2 separate regions of the Homo sapiens genome follow, and region 2 is linked to region 1. Evidence: fine-mapped expression QTL. A gene starts in region 1. The other region holds a variant in brackets. All regions are shown on one strand. Distances are between the middles of the regions. Region 1 holds the start of LINC02386 (long intergenic non-protein coding RNA 2386). Region 2 overlaps LINC02386 (long intergenic non-protein coding RNA 2386).

Region 1 (4,391 bases):
AACAAAGGGAAGGAATCTGAAACCTCAGGTCTGGACAGGGCACCAAACCACCTGCTAGAGTAGGGTAAAGTGCTCATAGACAGGGATCTTAGGGGTGAGTTGAAAGCAGGTGAGAGATTTATTCCACAACTGGTTCATTTTGTTCGCCTGCTGTGTCACACACTGTGCTAGTCACACTGGTGACAAACAAGGCAGACAGTACTCCTGAGCTTTGCTCCTGAGCTTTCTTCTGGCCACGGATATGGGGCGGTGGGGAGTCAGGAAGTAACCAAACAGATACATCAACAAGATCACCAGTGGATGGCGAGCTAGAGAGGAACCCAAGAAGCAAGGGAAATCTTGTGAGCCATTGTCTGAAAGATCTGGAGTCTGAGTTGTTGAGCTCCTTCTGTTTTCAGCTCTTTAGTATGTGAAGAATGATTCTCTGGAACCTATCCAGTCTTCATTCGATACCACCCTGAAAAAGTTGTCTCAGATATTAGCGCTCAGTTTACCCTACTTTCTGGCTGAGTTGGATGAGCAGTAGCCTTGTCAAAGCCTCTGGATCAAAGCCCTGGAAAGAAAAAGCACCACTTTTTAAGGTTGTCGAAAAGAAAAAAAAAATCTGGAATTGGCTACGAGACCTTCAAAACTTACTGCACCACTGGCACAATAGGAGGGTGAACATGAACAATGCTCCTCCTTCTGAAAAATAAGGAAGGTATGAACAAGGTCAACCATAAAAGGCACAAGGACCACAACATCTACCTGAAGAAGCTGGGTCTGTCTACAAACCAGTGGTGTGTCACTGTGAATATTTGGAGCTGGCGAAATGACCAGATCCCCAGAACCACTGGACACCCGGAGTGCTACTCCAGGCTCTGGAGGCCAATCTGCCCTCAGTGTTTATGGAACCCTGAGGTTTGTTGGTCTCCTAGTTTCAGAAATATCCTTACGATAAATCCCAACTGCTGAAGGTAACGCTGTGAGAGGGTCTCTGTGGTCCTGAGAGATCCTGACTGATACACAGGCTCTAAATGTGTAGGGGTCTGCAAACGACAGGTCAGGGAGGGCTGGAAGCAGGGTGAGCCACTACACTCCCACTTTTGACTTTTTTTCACTCCAGCCTGCCCTTCTCATTCCTGCCAAAATTACAGATTGCACCAGCCCAGAAGGAAGCCCTGAATTAAGGATTTGGGTCTCCATCCAATTTCAAAGTGCAGTCACTGAAACAGGTACTTCCGTCACTACCACTTGCTTCTCCATGAAGCAGAACAGTTCCTTCTGCTCCCCAAGCCCAGCTCCACTTGCTTCCAGTCTGCAGGAACTCAAGACATGGATCATCATCTCTTCCCTTTCAACTCCCAGGTTCTGCCAAGCATGGCCCTGATGGAAAGCCACGGCAGTGGAGTGGGAGTTGTCTCTTTTAACCAATCCTTTTCAGTAGCAGGTTTGAACTTACATCTTAAAAAACTCAAAAATATTTATTTTAGAAAGCAGGCTCCATGTCCCAAAGCCTGTGGCAAGTGGGAACTTAAGGTCCCTTGAAATCATCCAAGTGTGGAAGTGGTGATTTAGAGCTAAAGCAATGATCTAAATTCTCCAGGCTGAAGTTGAGCTGAAAGAGGGCCTCAGTTCTCTCCTTCTATCCCTGGGCCTTCTTCCCAAGCCACCCCTAGACACCCTGTCCACAGAAGCCGTGGTTTGTGACGGCACCTCACTCCTGCATTCTGAAAGATGCCATTTCACAATGGTTGCTCCCTTTACAACTGTCTCATGGCCCCCAACCGAACAAACTCCAGCGGACAGATTCATGCCAGCAACAGGTTCACAGCAGACTGTGGAGGTATAGAGCACATGAATCTCCCACTTACTGAGAAAAAAAGTGACAGAGAGCCTAGGGAAAGGAAACAGGGACCCACTCCCTGCTCCCTATTCCCCCCATCCCAGCCCCTCCCATCCATCCCCATTCCTTCCACCTGAGATCAGTGCTGAGCCCCCTAAGAAGCTCATTGAGTCTTTTGGAAATATAACAAAAGTGAGTACAATTGGTGCAATTGCAATGAGCCCCAGATGCCCAGGTCTGACATCCTCTGAATCACCCCCTCTCAAGGGTCTTCCAGGCAGCTGTCCTCACTCTGGCTTAAGTAAATTAAGTTAGATTTTGTGCCTTGCCTCTTGCTTTTAAGTTGACACTGACGCGAATAAATGGCCCATGAGAGGGTTTCCTAAGAGAGGAAGGAGGCTGTCTCAGAAGCAGGAGGAACTCACGTCTGCCGAGGACACAGTTATATCCAGTGAGGTCGGGGGCGGGCTGTTGACAGCTTCCATTAATTCCACTGGGACAGGCAAGCATCAACTGGCAGTTATTGGAGCTGAGGATGCTGGGATAGATTGTAAAGTGAACAGCTGGCCCTTCGATTGTAAGCCTAGCTTAAGGAAACAGAACTGCAGGGAGAGAGGAAAGAGCAGATTTTCATAAGATCTCTTGTTAGGCTTTGGTTTCCATATCCTTCCCCACAGCTTCAGCCCAAGCGCCCAGCAGCCCACCTGTTTGTCTTTTCCCAACTCCGCAAAGGTAGAGGCTCCTGTTGGTAAAGCGACAGCTGAGAAGTGGGAAAGATAAAGGTTACAAACACTGCCCCAGATAATCCACAAAAAGCTTTGCTGGAATCAGGTTATGCATCTCTGAATCTGAGCTAGATTTATTGGGTCAGGGACCATGCTTGCTTATTGGCTCAAGAACTGACTGAGGAGGTGTCTTAAGAAATGCTTGCTGGATGGATAAATAAACAGCTGAGTGTTTATCTGAGCCTGGAAACTGCCTGCACCAGCACAAAAGTAAAGCCCCAACACCCTTAGGCCACACCTGCTGGAAGGCTTCCTATCTGTCAGCCCCAAGAAGATGTAGGCAAGATGAGGCAAGTTCTGACCAACAAAGGAAACTGCCGTCCTTCTTTCCTGGCCTTTCTTCCACTGTGATGCCAAAAATCCCATCAAGTCCAGTTACCCAGACAGTGGGATGTAAGAGGAGTTTCCTGGAAATCTGGCTCTACCATTGCCCCCATGAGTATAATGGTGACAAGCTTGGGCCCTGAAATCAGAAAGCCCGAAGTTTGAAATCTCAGACTTCTTACTTGCTAGCTGTGAGACTTTGAGCAAATTACTCAATGTTTCTAAACCTTGATTTCCTCAATGGGTAAAATGGGGATAATATTGGGTAACACACTAACCACAATGTCAAGAATAGAGTTAGTGCTCAATAAACGTTTATCTCTATTCCCGTACACCCCATCCTGCTAATTCCCTTCTTTCTCTTCTTCCCCATAACTTCCAATAGCATCATTACCTATGAACAGAGGGTAGAATAATCACAAAACTGGAAAGTTTGGGACAGCCTAAAAGTTATTTACAAGTCTAAGAGCAACCACTGAGTCCTGCCCAATGGCCTGGCTTTTTAAAAAACACCTAATTAGGAGCCAGTGAGGTCCCTAAGCCCACACAATTTCCTAGAAATGACAGGGTATGTATTTACAAAATAACTCTTTACCCTTTAAAAGAGCACAAGTATTTTCTGCTCCCATGATATCTCAAGTGGCACCTAGATTGCTGAAGTTCTGTTATCCAATGAGTAGTGTCACTCAGAGAGGTGGTATGAGTGATTTAGAGTCTAGGTCTCTGAACTGGGATGAGCCATTTCTTCATGTCTTGGTCTCCAATGCATAAAATGAAGAGATTGGAGCAGATGATCACTAGAGAACCTTCCAATGTTAAGACTTAAAGTTTAAATGGTTTTATGATAGGGAGGGATTGTAGAAAAGTAAAACCCACAAAACTTAACCTCCCAGGAGGAAAATTAAAATATTTTAATTGGAAGTAAATGATAACGTGGCACAGTTTGATGTGAATGTAATGGCATAAGGAGGTCGGAGGTCCTGGGTGCCCTCTCACACTCATTCTCAGCACCAGATGTGGGGGCACCTGGAACAGCCTGTAGGGAGGCTAATAAATTCCACCCTCACTCCAGCTCTGAAGAAACCTCCATGGTAGAAAAAAACCAAAGAGCCCCTGAGTCTCTCTACTGCTTCAATGGCTACTCCTACTTTGGAAAGCAGAGAAGGAGGAAGACCCCAACATCTTCCATCAGTGCTGAAGACACCACCCAATCCCTCCACACCTCTGCTTCAGCTCTTACCTGTGCCCCCACCCCCACACAGCCCTCTGCTAGCCACTAGGTGTTAGCTGTCTTTCACCTGCAAAAGGTCTCCCTTTGCCAATTTTTGTCACAAATTTTTGCATATTGCTTCTATACATTTGCAGATAGGATTCAGTAGGCACTGATTCCAACTATGTAAGAGAAAATGGAATGGCTGCACTTGCTGTCACAGAAGGCTTTCAGGAGAGCACATTGA
Region 2 (4,391 bases), 36 kb before region 1:
CCAGGTAGTATACTGCAGGCTTTGCATAAGACTCTAAGACATGCTGGCTTCAGGTGCGACCCAACACATTTCCAGCTGTGGTGGCTATGGTGAGAGACTTATTCTGTTGAGAAAACAGGGAAAGTAAAAGGGACTTTGTCTCACACCTTAGGTGTCAGGTTGGCCACAGTAGGGTACAGCACCAAGCAGGATCTTGGGTCCCTGATTACAGGCTTTGGGCCTCGGATGTTATTTCTGGACATGCCTTGGGCCAGAGGGGAGCCCAATGTCTTGAAAGGTTAGTCCCAGATCTGGCAGCATTCACCACCAGCTGACTAATGAGCCCTTGGGCCTTAAGTGAACATCAGCAGTAGCTGGGCAGTACTCCCAGTGGCTCTTTGTTAGTGGTGGCCTGTGGCAAGAGGCTCCTTTGCCTGTGGAAAGGGAAAAGACCTTTGTCTTGTGGTTTGAGTGCCAGCTTAGCAGAAGTAGAATAGAGAACCAGGTAGATTTCTAAGATTTTTACTCCAGTCCCTGGCTTCTAGATGGCATCTCTGGACTTACCTGGGGCCCTGAGGAACTTGCTGGTCTGAAGTGAAGTACACAAACCTGGCTGGAATCACCATCTGTTGATTGTAGAGCCCTGGGGCCTTGATCAAACATAAGTGGTAGCCAGGCAGTGGTTACTGTGGGCCTTGGGTGAGACTCAGTGCTATGCTGGTTTTGGGTCTGACCAAGAACAGTCCCAGTTGTGGTGACCACAGGGGAGCTTGTGTCACCTCTCCTCCAGCTCTAGGTGGCTCAGTACAAAGAGAGAGAGAGAGAGACTCCATTTGTTTGGGAGAAAGTAAGGGAAGAGAACAAGAGTCTCTGCCTGGTAATCCAGAGAATTCTTCTGGCTCTTATCCAAGTCCACCAAGGCCACACCTCTAGGAGTCTGCAAGAAGCACGGCAACACTAGACTTGAGATACCTCCTAATGCAGATATAGCTGAGATCACAGCACCCAAATCCATTTGAATATCTGAAAAGCCTTCCCAAGAAGGATGAGTACAAAGAAGCCCAGATTGCAAAGACTATAATAAATACATAACTCTTTAATGCCCAGACACTGACACATATCCACAAACATCAACATGACCAAAGAAAACACAGCCTTACCAAATGAATTCAATAAGGCACCAGAGACAAATCCTGGAGAAACAGAGACATGTAACCTCTCAGACAATTCGAAATAGCTGTTTTGAGGAAACTCAAAGAAATTCAAGATAACACAGAAAAGGAATTCAGAATCCTATCAGATAATTTTAACAAAGAGATTGAAATAATAAAAAAGAATAAAGCAGAAATTATGGAGTGGAAAAATGCAATTGACATACTGAAGAATGCATCAGAGTCTCTTAATGGCAGAATTGATCAAGCAGAAGAAAGAATTGGTGAGCTCGATGGCAGTCTATTTGAAAATACAGTTAGAGGAGACAAACGAAAAAGGAATAAAAAGGAATGATGCACACCTACAAGATGTAAAAAATAGCCTCAAGGGAGGCAAGGGAGGCAAATCCAAGAGTTATTGACCTTAAAGAAGAGGTAGAGAAAGAGATAAGGGTAGACAGTTTATTCAAAGAGATAATAACAGAGAACTTCCCAAACCCAGTACAAGAAGGCTATAAAACACCAAGCAGATTTAACCCAAAGACTACCTCTAGGCATTCAATAATCAAACTCCCAAAGATCAAGGATAAAGAAAGGATTCCAAAAGCAGGAAGAGAAAATAAACAAATAACATAAATAACATACAATGGAGCTTCAACACATCTGGCAGAAAATTTTTCAGTGAAAAC[C/G]TTGCAGGCCAGAAGAGAGTGGCATTGAATATTTAAAGTGCTGAAGATAAAACACTTTTACTCTAGAATACCATATCCAGTGAAAATATCCTTCAAACATAAAGGAGAAATAATGACTTTCCCAGACAAAGAAAAGCTGAGGGATTTCCTCAACACCAATCCTGACTTACAAAAAATATTAAAGGGAGTTTGTCAATCTGAAAGAAAAGGACATTAGTAAGCAACAAGAAATCACCTGAAGATTCAAAACTCACTGATAATAGTAAGTACACAGAAAAACACAGAATATTATAACACTGTAATTGTTGTGTATAAGCTACTCTTAAGTAGAAAGACTAAATGATGAACCAATAAAAATAATAACTACGACAACTTTTCAAGACATAATAAAATAGCATATAAATATAACCATGCACAGTGGCTCACACCTGTAATCCCAGCATTTTGAGAGGCTGAGACAGGAGAATTGCTTGAGTTCAGGAGTTGGAGACCAGCATGGGCAACATAGTGAAACCTCATCAAAAAAAAGTAAAAAATTAAAAACAAAATTTCAAATATATGAAAAGAAACAACAATAAGTTAAAAAGCAGAGGATGAAGTTAAAGTGAAGCATTTTGTTTTCTTTTTGCTTGTCTGTTTATGAAATCAGTGTTAACTTGTCATCAGTTTAAAATAATGAGTTATAAAAGAGTATTTGCAAGCCTCATGGTAACCTCAAATCAAAAAACAACAGATAAAAAATAATAAAAAGGAAGAAATTAAAACATACCACCACAGAAAATTACCTTCACTAAAAGGAAGACAGGAAGGAAGGAAAGGAGGAAGAAAAGATTACACACACACACACACACACACACACACACACACACACAAAACAGAAAACAAATAGCATAATGAATGACAAGAGTAGGTCCTTACTTATCAATAATAACATTGGATGTAAATGGACTAAACTCTTCAATAAAATACATAAAGTGGCTGAATGGATTAAAAAAAAGACCCAACAATATGTTGCCTACAAGAAAAACACTTCACCTGTAAAGATACACATAGACTGAAAATAATGAGATGGAAAAAGGTATTTCATGCCAATTAAACCAAAAAAGAGTAGGAGTAGCTATACCTATATAAGACAAAATAGATTTCAAGACAAAAACTACATGAAGAGGCAAAGAAAGTCACTATATAATGATAAAGGGGTCAACTCAGCAAGAGGATATAACAATTGTAAACACATATGCACCCAACTGGAGCATCCAGATATATAAAGCAGATATTGGTTGAGCTAAAGAGAGAGAGAGACCCCAGTAAAATAATAGCTAGAGAGAGACTTCAACTCCCAACCATCAGCACTGGACATGTCTCCCAGACAGAAAATCAAAAAAGAAATACTGGACTTAATCTGCACTATAGAACAAATGGGCCTAATATATATTTACAAAACATTTCATCAAACAGCTACAGATTACATTTTCTTTTCCGCAGCACATGGATCATTCTCAAAAATAGACCACATATTATATCATAAAAAAGTGTTAAAACATTCAAAAACTGAAATAATATCAAGCATATTATCTGATGACAGTGTAATAAAACTAGAAATCAATAACGAGAAGAATTTTGGAAACTACACAAATGCATGGAAATTAAATAATATGCTCCTGAATGACTAGTAGGTCAATGAAGAAATTAAGAAGGGAATTGAAAAATGTATTAAAACAAATGATAATGGAAACACAACATACCAAAACCTATGGGATACAGCAAAAACAGTACCAAGAGGGAACTTTATAGCTATAAGTGCCTACATCAAAAAAAGAAGAAAAACTTCAAGTAAACAACCTAACAAAGCATCCTAAAGAACTAGGAAAGCAAGAGCATACCAAACCAATAATCGGTAGAAGGAAAGAAATAATAAAGATCAGAACAGAAATGAATAAAATTGAAACAAAATGATACAAAGATCAACGAAACAGAAAAGCTTTTTTTTGAAATGTAAACAACATTGACAAATCTTTAGTCAGACTAGTTAAGAAAAAAAAAACAAAAAAATCAGAGATGAGAAAGGAGACATTAAAACCAATGTCACACAAATCAAAGGATCATTTGAGGCTACTATGAGCAACTATATGCCAATAAAATGGAAAATCTAGAAGAAATGGATCACTTGCTAGATACATATGACCTACCAGATTGAACCAGGAAGAAATCCAAAACCTGAACAGACCAGTAACAAATAATGAGAACAAAGCCATAATAAAATGTCTCCCAGCAAACAAACAAACAAAAAAAAGCCTAGGTCCCAATGACTTTACTGCTGAGTTTTACCAGACATTTAATGAAGAACTAATACCAATCCTACTCAAACTCTTCTGAAAAATAGAGGAATAAAGAATATTTCTGCAACTCATTCTATGAGGCCATTAATTTTCTGATATTGAAACCAGACAAGGATACAGCAAAAAAAAAAAAAAAAAGAAAGAAAGAAAACTACAGGCCAATATATCTGATGAATAATCATGCAAAAATCTTCAACAAAATACTATCACACTGAATTCAACAACACATTGAA

What was found. PIP is the estimated chance that this variant, and not a neighbour inherited with it, causes the effect.
Region 2: its variant is the best candidate, but not a certain one, in a credible set for the expression of LINC02386 in sun-exposed skin (GTEx, PIP 0.75).

Annotation. Positions count from the first base shown.
Region 1 is chr12:30,294,368-30,298,758 of GRCh38, forward strand. It overlaps LINC02386 (long intergenic non-protein coding RNA 2386), which reads right to left and starts at 2,340. Exons shown (of 5, transcript NR_183469.1): 1 at 2,251-2,340.
Region 2 is chr12:30,258,139-30,262,529 of GRCh38, forward strand. All of the region lies in intron 2 of LINC02386 (long intergenic non-protein coding RNA 2386), which reads right to left. Among named protein-coding and RNA genes, the nearest start is that of LINC02386, 36 kb to the right of the region's middle. The variant C/G (reference allele first, on the strand shown) is at 1,820.